Homo sapiens: one gene and its partners. The protein of the gene in region 2 purifies or fractionates together with the protein of the main gene of each other region. This does not show direct contact. Each region holds a gene or a part of one and is shown on either strand. Other genes may lie near its edges.

What was found.
Region 1: the proteins of ACP3 (region 2) and KLK3 purify together in Homo sapiens (affinity purification with mass spectrometry, with the first as the bait; one large-scale study listed by BioGRID). This does not show direct contact.
Region 3: the proteins of ACP3 (region 2) and MON2 purify together in Homo sapiens (affinity purification with mass spectrometry, with the first as the bait; one large-scale study listed by BioGRID). This does not show direct contact.
Region 4: the proteins of ACP3 (region 2) and ATL3 purify together in Homo sapiens (affinity purification with mass spectrometry, with the first as the bait; one large-scale study listed by BioGRID). This does not show direct contact.

The regions. Positions count from the first base shown.
Region 1 is NC_000019.10:50,853,000-50,858,358, forward strand, and holds the start of KLK3 (prostate-specific antigen isoform 1 preproprotein), read left to right. Parts: upstream 1-1,915; 5' UTR 1,916-1,956; coding exon 1,957-2,002; intron 2,003-3,240; coding exon 3,241-3,400; intron 3,401-5,029; coding exon 5,030-5,316; intron 5,317-5,359. UniProt on the Homo sapiens protein: Hydrolyzes semenogelin-1 thus leading to the liquefaction of the seminal coagulum.
Region 2 is NC_000003.12:132,326,564-132,331,252, reverse strand, and holds part of ACP3 (prostatic acid phosphatase isoform PAP precursor), read right to left. Parts: intron 2,987-4,689; coding exon 2,891-2,986; intron 1-2,890. UniProt on the Homo sapiens protein: A non-specific tyrosine phosphatase that dephosphorylates a diverse number of substrates under acidic conditions (pH 4-6) including alkyl, aryl, and acyl orthophosphate monoesters and phosphorylated proteins.
Region 3 is NC_000012.12:62,549,781-62,554,469, reverse strand, and holds part of MON2 (protein MON2 homolog), read right to left. Parts: coding exon 4,640-4,689; intron 1,590-4,639; coding exon 1,296-1,589; intron 1-1,295. UniProt on the Homo sapiens protein: Plays a role in regulating membrane trafficking of cargo proteins. Together with ATP9A and DOP1B, regulates SNX3 retromer-mediated endosomal sorting of WLS away from lysosomal degradation.
Region 4 is NC_000011.10:63,653,733-63,658,421, forward strand, and holds part of ATL3 (atlastin-3), read right to left. Parts: intron 1-4,689. UniProt on the Homo sapiens protein: Atlastin-3 (ATL3) is a membrane-anchored GTPase that mediates the GTP-dependent fusion of endoplasmic reticulum (ER) membranes, maintaining the continuous ER network. It facilitates the formation of three-way junctions where ER tubules intersect.

The sequences.
Region 1 (5,359 bases), on a different chromosome or scaffold from region 2:
TTTTTGAGACAGAGTCTCACTCTGTTGCCCAGGCTGGAGTGCAGTGGCGCAGTCTCGGCTCACTGCAACCTCTGCCTCCCAGGTTCAAGTGATTCTCCTGCCTCAGCCTCCTGAGTTGCTGGGATTACAGGCATGCAGCACCATGCCCAGCTAATTTTTGTATTTTTAGTAGAGATGGGGTTTCACCAATGTTTGCCAGGCTGGCCTCGAACTCCTGACCTGGTGATCCACCTGCCTCAGCCTCCCAAAGTGCTGGGATTACAGGCGTCAGCCACCGCGCCCAGCCACTTTTGTCAAATTCTTGAGACACAGCTCGGGCTGGATCAAGTGAGCTACTCTGGTTTTATTGAACAGCTGAAATAACCAACTTTTTGGAAATTGATGAAATCTTACGGAGTTAACAGTGGAGGTACCAGGGCTCTTAAGAGTTCCCGATTCTCTTCTGAGACTACAAATTGTGATTTTGCATGCCACCTTAATCTTTTTTTTTTTTTTTTTAAATCGAGGTTTCAGTCTCATTCTATTTCCCAGGCTGGAGTTCAATGGCGTGATCACAGCTCACTGTAGCCTTGAACTCCTGGCCTTAAGAGATTCTCCTGCTTCGGTCTCCCAATAGCTAAGACTACAGTAGTCCACCACCATATCCAGATAATTTTTAAATTTTTTGGGGGGCCGGGCACAGTGGCTCACGCCTGTAATCCCAACACCATGGGAGGCTGAGATGGGTGGATCACGAGGTCAGGAGTTTGAGACCAGCCTGACCAACATGGTGAAACTCTGTCTCTACTAAAAAAAAAAAAAATAGAAAAATTAGCCGGGCGTGGTGGCACACGGCACCTGTAATCCCAGCTACTGAGGAGGCTGAGGCAGGAGAATCACTTGAACCCAGAAGGCAGAGGTTGCAATGAGCCGAGATTGCGCCACTGCACTCCAGCCTGGGTGACAGAGTGAGACTCTGTCTCAAAAAAAAAAAATTTTTTTTTTTTTTTTGTAGAGATGGATCTTGCTTTGTTTCTCTGGTTGGCCTTGAACTCCTGGCTTCAAGTGATCCTCCTACCTTGGCCTCGGAAAGTGTTGGGATTACAGGCGTGAGCCACCATGACTGACCTGTCGTTTAATCTTGAGGTACATAAACCTGGCTCCTAAAGGCTAAATATTTTGTTGGAGAAGGGGCATTGGATTTTGCATGAGGATGATTCTGACCTGGGAGGGCAGGTCAGCAGGCATCTCTGTTGCACAGATAGAGTGCACAGGTCTGGAGAACAAGGAGTGGGGGGTTATTGGAATTCCACATTGTTTGCTGCACGTTGGATTTTGAAATGCTAGGGAACTTTGGGAGACTCATATTTCTGGGCTAGAGGATCTGTGGACCACAAGATCTTTTTATGATGACAGTAGCAATGTATCTGTGGAGCTGGATTCTGGGTTGGGAGTGCAAGGAAAAGAATGTACTAAATGCCAAGACATCTATTTCAGGAGCATGAGGAATAAAAGTTCTAGTTTCTGGTCTCAGAGTGGTGCAGGGATCAGGGAGTCTCACAATCTCCTGAGTGCTGGTGTCTTAGGGCACACTGGGTCTTGGAGTGCAAAGGATCTAGGCACGTGAGGCTTTGTATGAAGAATCGGGGATCGTACCCACCCCCTGTTTCTGTTTCATCCTGGGCGTGTCTCCTCTGCCTTTGTCCCCTAGATGAAGTCTCCATGAGCTACAGGGCCTGGTGCATCCAGGGTGATCTAGTAATTGCAGAACAGCAAGTGCTAGCTCTCCCTCCCCTTCCACAGCTCTGGGTGTGGGAGGGGGTTGTCCAGCCTCCAGCAGCATGGGGAGGGCCTTGGTCAGCCTCTGGGTGCCAGCAGGGCAGGGGCGGAGTCCTGGGGAATGAAGGTTTTATAGGGCTCCTGGGGGAGGCTCCCCAGCCCCAAGCTTACCACCTGCACCCGGAGAGCTGTGTCACCATGTGGGTCCCGGTTGTCTTCCTCACCCTGTCCGTGACGTGGATTGGTGAGAGGGGCCATGGTTGGGGGGATGCAGGAGAGGGAGCCAGCCCTGACTGTCAAGCTGAGGCTCTTTCCCCCCCAACCCAGCACCCCAGCCCAGACAGGGAGCTGGGCTCTTTTCTGTCTCTCCCAGCCCCACTCCAAGCCCATACCCCCAGCCCCTCCATATTGCAACAGTCCTCACTCCCACACCAGGTCCCCGCTCCCTCCCACTTACCCCAGAACTTTCTCCCCATTGCCCAGCCAGCTCCCTGCTCCCAGCTGCTTTACTAAAGGGGAAGTTCCTGGGCATCTCCGTGTTTCTCTTTGTGGGGCTCAAAACCTCCAAGGACCTCTCTCAATGCCATTGGTTCCTTGGACCGTATCACTGGTCCACCTCCTGAGCCCCTCAATCCTATCACAGTCTACTGACTTTTCCCATTCAGCTGTGAGTGCCCAACCCTATCCCAGAGACCTTGATGCTTGGCCTCCCAATCTTGCCCTAGGATACCCAGATGCCAACCAGACACCTCCTTCTTCCTAGCCAGGCTATCTGGCCTGAGACAACAAATGGGTCCCTCAGTCTGGCAATGGGACTCTGAGAACTCCTCATTCCCTGACTCTTAGCCCCAGACTCTTCATTCAGTGGCCCACATTTTCCTTAGGAAAAACATGAGCATCCCCAGCCACAACTGCCAGCTCTCTGATTCCCCAAATCTGCATCCTTTTCAAAACCTAAAAACAAAAAGAAAAACAAATAAAACAAAACCAACTCAGACCAGAACTGTTTTCTCAACCTGGGACTTCCTAAACTTTCCAAAACCTTCCTCTTCCAGCAACTGAACCTCGCCATAAGGCACTTATCCCTGGTTCCTAGCACCGCTTATCCCCTCAGAATCCACAACTTGTACCAAGTTTCCCTTCTCCCAGTCCAAGACCCCAAATCACCACAAAGGACCCAATCCCCAGACTCAAGATATGGTCTGGGCGCTGTCTTGTGTCTCCTACCCTGATCCCTGGGTTCAACTCTGCTCCCAGAGCATGAAGCCTCTCCACCAGCACCAGCCACCAACCTGCAAACCTAGGGAAGATTGACAGAATTCCCAGCCTTTCCCAGCTCCCCCTGCCCATGTCCCAGGACTCCCAGCCTTGGTTCTCTGCCCCCGTGTCTTTTCAAACCCACATCCTAAATCCATCTCCTATCCGAGTCCCCCAGTTCCTCCTGTCAACCCTGATTCCCCTGATCTAGCACCCCCTCTGCAGGTGCTGCACCCCTCATCCTGTCTCGGATTGTGGGAGGCTGGGAGTGCGAGAAGCATTCCCAACCCTGGCAGGTGCTTGTGGCCTCTCGTGGCAGGGCAGTCTGCGGCGGTGTTCTGGTGCACCCCCAGTGGGTCCTCACAGCTGCCCACTGCATCAGGAAGTGAGTAGGGGCCTGGGGTCTGGGGAGCAGGTGTCTGTGTCCCAGAGGAATAACAGCTGGGCATTTTCCCCAGGATAACCTCTAAGGCCAGCCTTGGGACTGGGGGAGAGAGGGAAAGTTCTGGTTCAGGTCACATGGGGAGGCAGGGTTGGGGCTGGACCACCCTCCCCATGGCTGCCTGGGTCTCCATCTGTGTTCCTCTATGTCTCTTTGTGTCGCTTTCATTATGTCTCTTGGTAACTGGCTTCGGTTGTGTCTCTCCGTGTGACTATTTTGTTCTCTCTCTCCCTCTCTTCTCTGTCTTCAGTCTCCATATCTCCCCCTCTCTCTGTCCTTCTCTGGTCCCTCTCTAGCCAGTGTGTCTCACCCTGTATCTCTCTGCCAGGCTCTGTCTCTCGGTCTCTGTCTCACCTGTGCCTTCTCCCTACTGAGCACACGCATGGGATGGGCCTGGGGGGACCCTGAGAAAAGGAAGGGCTTTGGCTGGGCGCGGTGGCTCACACCTGTAATCCCAGCACTTTGGGAGGCCAAGGCAGGTAGATCACCTGAGGTCAGGAGTTCGAGACCAGCCTGGCCAACTGGTGAAACCCCATCTCTACTAAAAATACAAAAAATTAGCCAGGCGTGGTGGCGCATGCCTGTAGTCCCAGCTACTCAGGAGGCTGAGGGAGGAGAATTGCTTGAACCTGGGAGGTGGAGGTTGCAGTGAGCCGAGACCGTGCCACTGCACTCCAGCCTGGGTGACAGAGTGAGACTCCGCCTCAAAAAAAAAAAAAAAAAAAAAGAAAAGAAAAGAAAAGAAAAGGAAGTGTTTTATCCCTGATGTGTGTGGGTATGAGGGTATGAGAGGGCCCCTCTCACTCCATTCCTTCTCCAGGACATCCCTCCACTCTTGGGAGACACAGAGAAGGGCTGGTTCCAGCTGGAGCTGGGAGGGGCAATTGAGGGAGGAGGAAGGAGAAGGGGGAAGGAAAACAGGGTATGGGGGAAAGGACCCTGGGGAGCGAAGTGGAGGATACAACCTTGGGCCTGCAGGCCAGGCTACCTACCCACTTGGAAACCCACGCCAAAGCCGCATCTACAGCTGAGCCACTCTGAGGCCTCCCCTCCCCAGCGGTCCCCACTCAGCTCCAAAGTCTCTCTCCCTTTTCTCTCCCACACTCTATCATCCCCCGGATTCCTCTCTACTTGGTTCTCATTCTTCCTTTGACTTCCTGCTTCCCTTTCTCATTCATCTGTTTCTCACTTTCTGCCTGGTTTTGTTCTTCTCTCTCTCTTTCTCTGGCCCATGTCTGTTTCTCTATGTTTCTGTCTTTTCTTTCTCATCCTGTGTATTTTCGGCTCACCTTGTTTGTCACTGTTCTCCCCTCTGCCCTTTCATTCTCTCTGTCCTTTTACCCTCTTCCTTTTTCCCTTGGTTTCTCTCAGTTTCTGTATCTGCCCTTCACCCTCTCACACTGCTGTTTCCCAACTCGTTGTCTGTATTTTTGGCCTGAACTGTGTCTTCCCCAACCCTGTGTTTTTCTCACTGTTTCTTTTTCTCTTTTGGAGCCTCCTCCTTGCTCCTCTGTCCCTTCTCTCTTTCCTTATCATCCTCGCTCCTCATTCCTGCGTCTGCTTCCTCCCCAGCAAAAGCGTGATCTTGCTGGGTCGGCACAGCCTGTTTCATCCTGAAGACACAGGCCAGGTATTTCAGGTCAGCCACAGCTTCCCACACCCGCTCTACGATATGAGCCTCCTGAAGAATCGATTCCTCAGGCCAGGTGATGACTCCAGCCACGACCTCATGCTGCTCCGCCTGTCAGAGCCTGCCGAGCTCACGGATGCTGTGAAGGTCATGGACCTGCCCACCCAGGAGCCAGCACTGGGGACCACCTGCTACGCCTCAGGCTGGGGCAGCATTGAACCAGAGGAGTGTACGCCTGGGCCAGATGGTGCAGCCGGGAGCCCAGATGCCTG
Region 2 (4,689 bases):
ACTCGATGAATCTGAAAGTCTCTTTCAACCTCTGTGGGCAATGCTTTACTATCTGCCCAGTTTATTAATTCCTGGTTCATAAAAAAATTAGAACATGTTACTCTAAGTGTGGTCTGTATTGGCTTCACTTAAAAGCATTATAGAAATCAAATTCTTGGGCCCCACCCTTGACCTACTGAACCAGAACCTTTGGGGGTGGTGCTCAAGAATATTTTTTAACAAGCTTCTGATGGACAGTAATCACTGAGATGCACTGCATTAGCTCAGTGGTCCACAACCATTACCGTGCATCAGAAACAAAATTATCCAGCGGTGCATGTTGAAATGCAGATTCCTCAGCATCTCCATCAGAGATTCCAGCTCATTAGTTCCTGAGTGGGGCCCTGACATCTGCATTTTAACAAGTCTCCCAAGTGATTCAGATGCATGTAGTAGAGCACCATGCTTTGGAAATGCAGCATTCAAGTTTGTCTTTAATCCAGAGCCTTACTAGAGCTTTGGGAGCCAGAGAGGAGGTTGTTACGGTGGCTGCTGCTTGGTCCCACTTGTCATTTGCTTGTCACACTTGTCATTTGCTTGACCACCACTATAATCACTTCCCATCTACGATAGGGACAAGGTGGGAAAGGAATAATATACCGTGACCTGAGTAGCGGAGAAGCAGGTACTTTAGGTCTAATTGTGTTCTTACAGCTGACTTTTTAAATAGTCGTCTGTATGAAGCAGTGATTTTCACACTTTAGCATGCACAGAATCACCTGGAGGACTCAATAAAACACAGACTTCTGGGCTTTAATTCCAAAGTTTATGGTTCACTGGGTATTGCGTGAAGAATTTACATTACTGAGAAGTTCCCACGTGATGGTGATGCTGCTGGTCCAGGGACCACACTTTAAAAACCACTGATCTAGACAGCCATCATCTTATGATTATGCAGATTAAAAATACCTAGACAAGGCAGATTAAAAGTACCTAGACACTGATCTAGACAGCCATCATCTTATGATTATGTAGATTTAAAGTACCTAGACAAGGCTGGGTGTGGTGGCTCAGGCCTGAAATTCTAGCACTTTGGGAGGCCAAGGCGGGTGGATTGCCTGAGCTCAGGAGTTTGAGACCAGCCTTGGCAACATGGCGAAACCCCATCTCTACTAAAAATATAAAAAATTAGCCAGGCGTGGTGGTGCTCTCCTGTAGTTCCAGCTACTTGGGAGGCTGAGGCACGAGAATTGCTTGAATCTGGGAGGCAGAGGCTGCAGTGAGCTGAGATCGAGCCACTGCACTCCAGCCTGCGGGGACAGAGTGAGACTCCATCTCAAAAAAAAAAAAAAAAAAAAAAGTACCTAGACAAGGGTAGGAATCTGAGCCCTAGAACCTTGTCACTTCAAATGTGGTCCATGTACCAGTGCCATTGTCATCCTTGGGAGTATGTTAGACATGCAGAATCGCAGGTCCCACATCAGACCTGCTGAATTAGAATCTACATTTTGACAAGATTCCCAAGTGATTCATTTGCACATGGAAGCTTGAGAAATACTGCCCTAATAGAATCTGATGGGTAATCAAGGTTCTTCAGAAGAAGAACTCAGATCCTGCAGCCTAGAAGAATCTTTTGGTCTTAATGGGAAAACATAGCAACAGAACAGGAGTCTATACAGAGCCATAGGTATTAACAAGCAAATCTGAATTTTTGTAGCCTCTCTTTCATTCAAAGGGACAGAAGATGGGTAGGCTATGGTGAGAAGAGCTTTGACCTGGGAGACAGAAGATGCTGGTCTCAAATAGCCTGCCTGAGTTTTCTCCTCTATGAAATATAGTCAGGGCAGAAATTCTCAGCCTCGGCTACACATTAGAGTGAACTGATCACCAAGGAGCTTCTAAAAATCCCAATGCCCAGGACACATACTAGACCAATTAAATAAGAACCTCCCAGGCAGACATCAATATATTTTTTAAACCTCTCCAGATAATCCCAATGTTTTGGCAGGATTAAGACCCATTAGTTTTTGAGACATTCTACTCTAAAGATTCTGTGACATTTTCTTAATTAATATATTTAAACAGATCAGGACAGAAGCAATTCACCTGGCCTTGTGGCTCCAAACAGAAGAGTCATCCAATCTTACAAGCAAAGGGAATAGGGCTTTGGAACAGTGACTAAAGATGGCTTTGCTCCCCAGTTCACCTTCTCCTTAGATGCTCTTCAGAAAGTAGGGCTCCCTGTGTTTAACTGACCACTTATAAGGAAGGTCAAATCCCAATATATCCAGCTGACAAGAAATCATATTCTGATATCAGCACTTTGGGGAATCATGTTTCCCAATGCTGTTGATTCAGCTTATTGATTACAAGACTATTTTTCACTTTCTCATGTGAAGCCTAAGAAATTCAAATCCTGGCTTATGATTACCACTTGGCTCTCTTCAGCATTTCTAAGCTCATATAGTCTTTGTTCATGTACATCTCTTACATTTAAATAAAGCCAGAAGGGCAAAAAATATCAAAACAGACAATTCTATATACATTTCCCCTTGAGACTCATCAAGAATCTTTTTTTTTTTTTTTTTTTTTTTGAGATAGAGTTTTACTCTTGTTGCCCAGGCTGGAGTGCAATGGTGCGATCTTGGCTCACTGCAACCTCCACTTCCCAGGTTCAAGCGATTCTCCTACCTCAGACTCCCGAGTAGCTGGGATTACAGGTGCCCACCACCAATCCTGGCTAATTTTTGTATTTTTAGTAGAGAGAGGGTTTCACCACGTTGGCCAGGCTGGTCTCGAACTCCTGACCTCAGTTGATCCGCCTGCCTCGGCCTCCCAAAGTGCTGGGATTACAGGCGTGAGCCACCACACCCAGCTTCATCAACAATCTTTAGCTAAAAGTCCAACCAACCTGGGTGAGTTGGCCAAATCCTTGTGGCCATGAGGATTCCTTTATGGGGTCAGTGGGAAAGGTGTCAATGGGACTTCGGTCTCCATGCCGAAACACCTGAAAGTAGATGTGAGAGAGTGATGTTACAAACGTCACTTGGGTGTTTTGCTTCTGCTCATTATAATAGTTTTTTTTTTTCTAACTCATTGGTTTTAACTTTGGCTTCCCATTGTAATCACGTAAGGAGTTTTAAAAGATTCTGAGGACTGGCTTTCAACCTTAGTGATTTTTATTTAATTAGTCTGGGATGTGGCCAGGACATCAGGATTTAAAAAATCTCCCTGGGTAAATCTCTAGTTAAGAACCACTATTCTAAGTTCACTAACACTTTCACTGTGTTTCAGGTAATGTAAGAATCAAGATGATCAGCCATTAGAAGGCAGGTGACACATAATGGAGATCGGTTTGTACATAAGATAGGACAGAAAGGAACACAAAGCTGACAAGAGTACTTTACTGCAGACAAACTCTGATGAGAAGTATTCTTCCCTTAATGATTACAGTAATAGTGGTATAACTTTTTTTTTTTTGAAACAGTGTCTTGCTCTGTTGCCCAGGCTGGAGTGCAGTGGCGAATCCCAGGTTCAAGCAATTCTCCTGCCTCAGCCGCCTGAGTAGCTGGGACTACAGGCGCTTGCCACCACGCCCAGCTAATTTTTTTATTTTTAGTAGAGATGGAGTTTCACCATGTTGGCCAGGCTGGTCTTGAACTCCTGACCTCAGGTGGTCCACTTGCCTCGGCCTTCCAAAGTGCTGGGATTACAGGTGTGAGCCACCGTGCCCAACTAGTATAACTTTTTTTTTTTTTTCGAGACTGAGTCTTGCTCTGTCATCTAGGCTGGAGTGCAATGGCACCATCTTGGCTCGCTGTAGCCTCTGCCTCCCAGGTTCAAGTGATTCTCATGCCTCAGCCTCCCGAGAAGCTGGGATTACAGGCACACGCCACCACACCCAGCTAATCTTTGTATTTTTAGTAGAGATGGGGTTTCACCATGTTGGCCAGGCTGGTCTTGAACTCCTGACCTAGTGATCCACCTGCCTTGGCCTCCCAAAGTGCTGGGATTACAGGCATGAGCCACCACACCTGGCAACATTTTATATACAATAAAAATAATAGATTTTTAACACCACATACAATTTGTGACCATTTTGAGCCAATGATTTGTTCATTTTTTGGAGATTAGGAGTAAAAGATTGCAGGTGGGGAGGTTAGGAAAGCTAATTCTCAATACTTTAATAACATACTTCTATATTTGTACCCATGTCATGCTATTGTGATTGCACATTTCTCTTTGGGAAGAGTAGTCTGGACTTTTGAAATCTTGGTGCTTTGATTCTAATATGCTTTCTCAGTATAATATCAAACCAAACACAAAGCCATCTTATGAGCAAAAGATAAGGAAAGAAAACACTGAAGAACTACAAGATGAAGTCTACACTGATGTCAGCAAATATTTTTAATATAGAGACAGCTGCATAACACCTTGATTTATCTGAGGTTACCCGCACCTGTACTTATACTACCTGGCTAAAATGTTCCATTGAAAAGTAAGCTAAGAACCTGCTCTTTTGAAATTCTGTAAAACAGAATTCAATAGACATTAAATAAGAAAACAGTCTCAGACTTTAGTCATTTTTGAGAAGGAATTCCAAGAAAGTGGGAGATGCTTGGTTTGTGTCTCTAATATCTGAAGAAAACAGATCTTTTGGCCCTTTAAACTAGTGACAAATTAAAACTTCGGTAGAGTAGTCTACAGAAA
Region 3 (4,689 bases), on a different chromosome or scaffold from region 2:
GTGTTTCTCAAAGTGTGGTCTCTGAACTAACCAGCAGCATCAAGCTTCACCCAGGAACTTGATAGAAATTCAAATTCTCAGGACTCACTCCAGGCCAAAATAATCAGAAACTCAAGTTCAGGGAGGGCTGACAATAGTGGCTCAAAAATCTGTGCTTTAACAAGTCTTTAAGGTGATTCTGTTATTCTCTAATGTTTAAGAGACTGAAGTAGAATAGTCTGGAAATCAATTACAGAAAATAAGACAATGCAAGGTGTGTGAGAAAAAAATCATTAAGAATTAGGCAGCAAGAAGATAAAAAATGAAGTTGCTTGAAAGGAAAATTAGAATCAGAAAAGTATTAGATTAAAAACAAACTGTATGGGAGAATTAAGCATGTTTGTGATCTGAGGAGGAACTATGGGATGGAACTGAAATACAAGACAGAAGGAAAGAGGGCTTTTACTATAATAGATATGGGGTTTCACCATATTGGCCAGGTTGGTCTTGAACCCCTGACCTCAGGTGATCCTGCTGCCTCAGCCTCCTAAAGTACTGGGATTACAGGTGTCAGTCACCATGCCCAGCCCATTAATTTTTTAAGAAGACATTTTGGGGTCTATTAATTTGAAAAACTCACAAAAGCAAGTGAAAGGATTATAAACAGAATTTTATTATAATGGAACAGATGGAACAAAAAAGATGAGACTTTTAGCAAAGAGGGAATGATCACTAATAAACTGCTGATTTTATTAGAAAGTTTCAAAAGAAGAAAAAAATGAAATTGTAATTTAATGAATAAACATTACATGTACAATATACCATTTGGAGGTTACTTTTGTTTGGTGAGTCTACAAATAAACTTCATTGCTATTGATATTCATCTGTTAATAAAATTCTCTTTTGATTATATTTAAATTACATATCTATAAGTAGACCTCAAAAGTAAAACAAACAAAAACCCCAAAAGCTTTCTACTCTATGGTAAGGGATTGATTACCCTTTGTTGTTTAGTAACTCCTGGTTTTTACCATTTGGGAAAACTGGGGGAAAAAAAGGAGACAGAAAGGCAAAGGCAGAAATCACGAGAGATATAATAATAAGAGATGAAGACAGAAACAGAGATAAGGCTGTTAATATTTAATTTGCTCTTTATGAGGTACAATTTACAATATGACACAGTTATTTCCTGTTTTGTCAAATACACAAATGCATGGAAATTCTTTAAAAATTAAAAGAAATAAGTTTAACTGAAAAAGTATTAATATATAAGCATGACTCATTAAAAGCTGATAGTCCAATCTATTTTACAATACCTTCCAGATAACAGTGTGCCAGGTTGAATGCTGTAATAAAGTTCCATGCGCACCAATTGTAGAAAACAGAGTTTGCCCTGCACTCTTCCTGACAGCAGGACGGGGATCCACACATAGTTCACCCAATTTTGCATAAAGACATAACCACAAGCAATCAAATGGCGGTGCAGGGTGGAATGGCCGATTTAAAACAACTCCTTTCTCTTCTGCCTGCTTTTGCTGTGCTGCCTCTTCCTTATTTAGTTCTTTTTCAATAGTTTCCCCTCTTTGGAAAAAATAATCTGAAATATTCCACTAAAAAGCAAAGTAGAAAAATATTAGTTCATCCAAGGTTTTGTTTTAAACACATAAATATGCAACATGTGGCTGTTTTACCTTTCAGAGTAAAACTTTAAAAACATTACTTCAAAAATCTCTTTCCTAGTAGAATAGATTCAATGAAAACATCTCTTCTTCTGTCAGTGTCTCTACATTATTTCAGGAGAAAGTGGGGAAACAATCTTGAGCTAACTTTTTTTTTTTTACTTTTTTATTATAAAAAATGTCAAGAACATACAAAAAACCAAGAATAGTATAAGGAACTTGAACATATTGATGTATCTACCACCTAAATATAACAACTGTTAACTATAAAAAAAAACTATAATATCATTATCACCCTAACAATGTTAACAATTCCTTAATATTGTTTAATAAGTTTGTAATTTCATACACGAGCAATTACTGTTTCCAAACATATCTTATATTAATGATAATTATGCCAATGGTTAAAATGTAGAGAATCCAGTACTGTGAACATAAATGTAAAATAAAGGAGGTGCTATCCAGCAGTAATTTAAGCAATGTTGCACTAGCCACCCACTTGCAATCATATATGCAACATGCTTACATTTTTTCCCATGTAAAAATGGGAAAAATAATAGTAATAGTAAAATACAGTTGTCCCTCGGTATCCGTGGGGGATTGGTTTCAGGACCTCCCACTGCATACCCAAATCCACAAATCCTCAAGTCTGTTATATAAAATGGTGTAGTATTTGAATATAATCTACACACATCCTCCTGTATACTTTGAATAATACTAGGTAACTTTTAATACCTAACATAAGGTAAATGCTATGTAACTAGTTATACTGTATTTAGGTAATATTGACAAGAAAGCCTGTACATGTTCAGTACAGATACAACTATCTTGTTTTAAAAAAAAATTTTCTATTTATAGTTGGTTGAATCTACAGATGCAGAAGCCACAAATATTAAGAGCTGAACGTAGGAAGAGATGAATGTAGTAACTTATCTAGCTTGTGAGGAAAATTTAAAGTTCAAATTTATAAAACTTCTGAGTTTTAATATACATTTAAAAGATTCTAAATAATTGCCTTAAAATATATGTTGAAAACAATTCTGTGCATGTTTATTTCATGTAATGTTAACAATTCTCTAAGATTTCATTACAGAGATGCCTTGTTTTATTGCACTTCTCTTTGTTGTGCTTCACAGATAATTGTAATTTTTATAAATTGCAATTTATAAAGGTTTGTGGCAACCCTGCATTGAACAAGTCTGTTGGTACCGTTTTTTTCCAGCAGCATGTGATCACTTTGTGTCTCTGTGCCACATTTTAGTAATACTTGTAATATTTCAAACTTTTTAATTATTACTATGTCTGTTATGGTGATCTATGATCCGTGATCTTTGATGTGACTATTGCAACTATTTTGGGGTGCATGAGCCGCACCTATGTAAGATGGCAAACTTAATGTGAGTTTTCTGACTGTTTCATCGTCAGGTTGTTTCCTCATCTTTTTACTTCTTCTCAGGCCTCCCTATTTCTTGAGATACAACAACAGTGAAATTAGGCCAATTAATAACCCTACAATGACCTGTAAGTGTTCAAGTAAAAGGAAGAGTCGCATTTGTCTCACTTTCAATCAAAAGCTAGAAATAATTAAGCTTAGTGAGGAAGGCATGTCGAAAATCAAGACAGGCCAAAACCTGGGCCTCTTGTGCCAGTGAGCCAAGTTGTGAATGCACAGGATAAGTTCTTGAAGGAAACGAAAAGTGCTACTCCAAAGAACAAACAAACTATAAGAAAGTACATCATGGCGGGCGCCTATAATTCCAGCTACATGGGAGGCTGAGGCAGGAGAATCACTTGAACCCAGGAGGCAGAGGTTGCAGTGAGCCAAGATCATGCCACTGCACTTCAGCCTGGGTAACAAGCGCAAGACTCCGTCTCAGAAAAAAAAAAAAAAAAAAAAAAAAAGAAAGAAAGAAGAAAGTACAGCAGGCTTATTGATGGTATCAACAAACTTTCAGCTGTCTGGATAGAAGGTCAAACCAGCTACAAGATTCCCTTAAGCCAACGCCTAATCCAGAGAAAGACCCTAATTCTCCTCAATTCTATAAAAGCTGAGCAAGGTGAGGAAGCTGCAGAAGAAAAGTCTGAAGCTAGCAGGGGCTAGTTCATGAGGTTTAAGAAAAGACGTTATCACCATAACCTACAAGTACAAGGTGAAGCAGCAAGTGCTGATGTAGAACCTGTAGCAAGTTATCCAGATCTAGCTAAGATCACCGATGAAGGTGGCTACACTGACCAACAGATTTTCAATGTAGACAAAACAGCCTTTTTATTATTATCATTTTTTTTTACAGAGACAAGGTCTGGGTCTGTTGCCAAGGCTGGAGTGCAGTGCTGTGATCATAGCTCACTGCAGCCTCCAATTCCTGGGCTCAAGCAATCCTCCCATCCCAGCCTCCCATGTAGCTGAGACTACAGGTGTGCACCACCATACACAGCTAATTTTTAGTAGAGATGGGAGTCTCATTTTATTGCCCAGCCTGGTCTCAAACTCCTGGCCTCAGCAATCCTCCCACCTCAGCCTCCCAAAGTGCTGGGATTACAGGCATCAGCTACCATGCCCAGCCTGAAACAGCCTTGTACTTGAAGATGTCATGTAGGACTTTCATGGCTAAAGATAAAAAGTCAATGCTTGGCTTCAAGGCTTCAAAGTACAAGCTGATTTTCTTGTCAGGGGCTAATGTAATTGGTTCACATAAAAGTCAACTGAAGATTTCCCTTGTATATACTATTGTTTACTAAACCCTTTCATGACAAACCCTGTAAAACCCAAACTTCAGCTCAATGTATGAAAATTATTTCAAACATTTTGTTATTAATATTTAAGTGATGTTATTTAATCCTTCACCCAGACGTAAGTTTGAAATTTAAAAGCCATATAAACAATTTGCAAAGAGCTAAAAGTATATTTGCTTAGCATTCACTCCCAACTGAATAACAATGATTTCTAAATTATATTATATTCTAAGGACAATGATACTTACCAATAAACCTATTGAAGTTAAACTAATATTGAGTTCTTGGTTATGGAGGC
Region 4 (4,689 bases), on a different chromosome or scaffold from region 2:
AATCTGAAAAGGCTGCATATTGTATGATTCTAACTATATGACATTCTGGTAAAGGCGAAACTATGGAGACAGTAAAAAGATCAGTGGAGGAGTTTGTGGGGAGGGAAGAGAGGAACAGATAGGTACATTACAGAGAATGTTTAGGGCAGTGTGACTATTCCGTATGATACAGTAATAGTGGGCATGTGTCACTATACAGTTGTCAAAATCCAATGTACAACACAATGAGTGAGCCCTAAAGTAAACTATGTATGGGTTTTAGCTAATGACAATATATTGGTTCAAATATTAATTGTAACAAATGTATCACACTATTACAAGATGTAAACAACAGAGCAAACTGAAGGAGAATGTGGGAACTGGGCAGGTTGCAATTAATTTTCCTGAAAACCTAAAACAAAATAAAGATACAATTTGTTTTTTTTTTTTTTTTGAGACGGAGTCTTGCGCTGTGGCCAGGCTGGAGTGCAGTGGCGCGATCTCGGCTCACTGCAAGCTCCGCCTCCCAGGTTCACGCCATTCTCCTGCCTCAGCCTCCCAAATAGCTGGGACTATAGACGCCCGCCACCACGCCCAGCTAATTTTTGTATTTTTAGTAGAGACGGGGTTTCACTGTGTTAGCCAGGATGGTCTCGATCTCCTGACCTCATGATCCGCCCGCCTCAGCCTCCCACAGTGCTGGGATTACGGAGTTTCACTCTGTTGCCCAGGTTGGAGTACAATGGCACGATCTTGGCTCACTGCAACCTCCACCTCCCAGGTCCAAGCGATTCTCCTGCCTCAGCCTCCCGAGTAGCTGGGATTACAGGCATGAGCCACCATGCCCGGCTAATTTTTGTATTTTTAGTAGAGACAGGGTTTCACCACGTTGGTCAGACTCGTCTTGAACTCCTGACCTCAGATGATCCACCCACCTCGGCCTCCCAAAGTGCTGGGATTACAGGCCTAAGCCACCATGTCTGGCCTATTTTTTTTTTTTTTTTGAGACAGAGTTTTGCTCGTCACCCAGGCTGGAGTGCAATGGCGCAACCTCGGCTCACCACAACCTCCACCTCCCAGGTTCAAGCGATTCTCCTGCCTCAGCCTCCTGAGTAGCTGGGATTACAGGTGCACACCACCATACCCGGCTAATTTTTGTATTTTTAGTTGAGCAAGACTGTCTAAAAAAAAAAAAAAAAGTTGTTTTCTGTTAATTTTAATATCTGTGTTAGTTCTGAGACAGTTTTGATTGATTTTTCTCCTCATTTGGGTTATATTTTTCTGCTTCTTTTATGTCTGCAAATTTTTGATAGGATGTAGACTTGTGGATTTTCCCTTGTTGGGTGCTGGTTATTTTTGCATTCCTATAAAATATCTAGCTTTATTCTGAGATGTAGTTAAGTAATTTGGAAACTCTGGTTTTTTCTGTTCTTGCTGTTTAGATTTGTTAAATGGAACCAGAGTGTTGTTATTCCTCATTACTGAGGCAAGACTGAGTACTCTTCCTAATCCCACTGCAATCTCCGCCGCCCAGGTTCCAGCAATTCTCCTGCCTCTGCCTCCCAAGTAGCTGAGATTACAGGTGGGCGCCACCACGCCCAGCTAATGTTTGTATTTTTAGTAGCAACAGGGCATCACCATGTTGGCCAGGCTGGTCTCGAACTCCTGACCTCAGGTGATCCGCCCACCCCAGCCTCCCAAAGTGCTGGGAATACAGGCGTGAGCCACCGCATCTGGCCTTTTTTTTTTTTTTTAGATGGAGTTTAGCTCTTGTTGCCCAGGCGGAAGTGCAATGGTGCGATCTCGGCTCACTGCAACCTCCACCTCCCGGGTTCCAGCGATTCTCCCACCTCAGCCTCCCAAGTAGCTGGGATTACAGGCATGACCCATCACACCCAGCTAATTTTTTGTATTTAGTAGAGATGGGTTTTCACCATGTTGGTCAGGCTAGTCTCAAACTCCTGACTTCAGGTGATCCACCCACCTCGGCCTCCCAAAGTGTGAGATTACAGACGTGCGCCACCGCGCCGGCCAAAGAATTTTAAATGAACATCTTGTGGAACAACTTCAAGCAGCAAGAGGCACATGTAATAGGAGTCTCCAAAGGGAGTAACAGACCAAAAAAACTTGAAGAAATAATAACCTTAAAATGTCCAAATTTGATAAACATTATAAATCTGCAGATTCAAGAAGCTCAACAAAACCCACATACAAATAACATGAACTACATCAGCCTGGCGCAGTGGCTCACGCCTATAATCCCAGCACTTTGGGAGGCCAAGGCGGGCAGATCACGAGGTCAGGAGATCGAGACCATCCTGGCTAACACAGTGAAACCCCGTCTCTACTAAAAATACAAAAACTTAGCCGGGCGTGGTGGTAGGCGCCTGTAGTCCCAGCTCCTTGGGAGGCTGAGGCAGGAGAATGGCGTGAACCCGGGAGGCGGAGCTTGCAGTGAGCCGAGATCACGCCACTGCACTCCAGCCTGGGCGACACAGTGAGACTCCGTCTCAAAAAAAAAAAAAGAACTACATCAAAACACATAATAATTTGCTCAAAAACAGTGATAAAATCTTAAAAGCAACCAGACATACCCTATAAATATATATACCTATGTACCCACGAAAATAAAATTTTTTTTAATTTAAAGAAAAAAGCAACCAGACAAAAAAGACAGATTAGGTACAAAAGAACAAAAATAAGAATAACAGTGTATTTCTTGTCAGAAACAATGTCAGCAGACTGGGCACAGTGGCTCATGCTTGTAATCCCAGCACTTTGGGAAACAGAGGCAGGTGAATAACCTGAGGTCAGGAGTGCAAGACCAGCCTGACCAATATGGCGAAACCCCGTCTCTACTAAAAATACAAAAATTAGCCAGGCGTGGTGGTGCGCGCCTGTAGTCCCAGCTACTCAGAAGGCTGAGACAGGAGAATTGCTTGAACCCGGGAGGCAGAGGTTGAAGTGAGCCGAGATCGCACCACTGCACTCCAGCCTGAGCAACAGAGAGACTCCCTCTCAAAAAAAAAAAAAAGAAACAATGTCAGCAAAAAGGCAAAGGGGCAACACCTTTGAAGTACTGAGAAAAATACGTTGGCCTAGAACTCTACACTAAGAGTAAATATTTTCCAAAACAAAGGCAAAATAAAGATTTTTCAGATGTATGAAAGCTAAAAGAATTCAGTACCAACACTCCAGCACTTCAAAATATCAAAGGTGGCCAGGTGTGGTGGCTCACCCCTGTAATCCCAGCACTTTGGGAGGCTGAGACAGGCGGATCACGAGGTCAGGAGTTCCAGACCAGCCTGGCCAACATTGTGAAACCCTGTCTCTACTAAAAATACAAAAATTATCCAGGCATGGTGGTGTGCACCTGTACTCCCAGCTAATGAGGAGGCTGAGGCAGGAGAATTGCTTGAACCTGGGAGGCGGAGACTGTAGTGACCAAGATGGTGCCACTGCACTCCAGCCTGGGCAACAGAGTGAGACTACATCTCAAAAAAAAAAAAAAAAAAAGGACAAACAGGTGTGAAGGCATGCTTATAGGATTGGGCTAAAAACAGAAGTAATGGATGAAAGTCTGTATAAGAAACACATGACTTACCCCTCCCGATCCTTACAAAGAAATCTGTGGAGAGGCTCTATGCCCATAGCTTACAAGGCATAGATGAGACTGGGGCTAAGAAGCCCTACTGATAGCTAGGGGATAGTGAATGCCCACCTTCTGAACAGTGAGATCCCCAATGCCATTTCCCTGCTCAACTCCCAGAACAACAGCCAGGTCTGTGCCACCCATACAGGAGTAAGGAAGTAAAGAACAGAAGTGGTAACACATAAGAGCATCAGCCTCTGGGAAGTGAAAACTGGGTAGAGAGGAGAATAACACACATGACAGCTGCTTTCTGTTAGAAGCCTTACAGTAGTACCTGACCTTTTAAACTATATTCATGCATTTTATTTAAGAATCTTAAAAACAATCAATATGTATTAATTTTAAATCATTCACTTTGATAAAAAGTTGTTTTCACATCTTCCTTCCTTTTATTGAAAAAAAATTTCAGAAAATAACAGTTCATAAAAGACACAAACAAATCAACAGGTATATACCAGTGGAAAACACAATATGAAACTAAAAATGCCATTGGCTTTTTTTTTTTTTTTTTGAGACGGAGTCTCGTACTGTCGCCCGAGCTGGAGGACAGTGGTGTGATCTCGGCTCACTGCAACCTCTGCCTCCCGGGTTCAAGCGTTTCTCCTGCCTCAGCCTCCCAAGTAGCTGGGATTACAGGCACCCACCACCACACCCAGCTAATTTTTTGTATTTTTAGTAGAGACAGGGTTTCACTATGTTGGCCAGGCTGGTCTCAAACTCCTGACCTTGTGATCTGCCCACCCTGGCCTCCCAAAGTGTTGGTATTACAGACGTGAGCCACAGCACCCGGCTGCCACTGGCTTCTTTAATTGGTTAAGAGCACAAAATGTAACAGGCAGAAGGTCTGTTTCAAACAAATTAAAAAGCTATGTGTTTTTTAAATTCTCCCCAAGTTGGATATACACACACCCACAAAAATAGTGTGTGAAGGAAAGCTGTCATACACAGTAAGTTGTATCCTGAATTATTCAAGGAAACACATGTTGAAATAGGAATTAACAGAGTCAGCAACAGATTAATATTTTTTAACTGAGTCTAAAAATGCTACATAGCCCTAA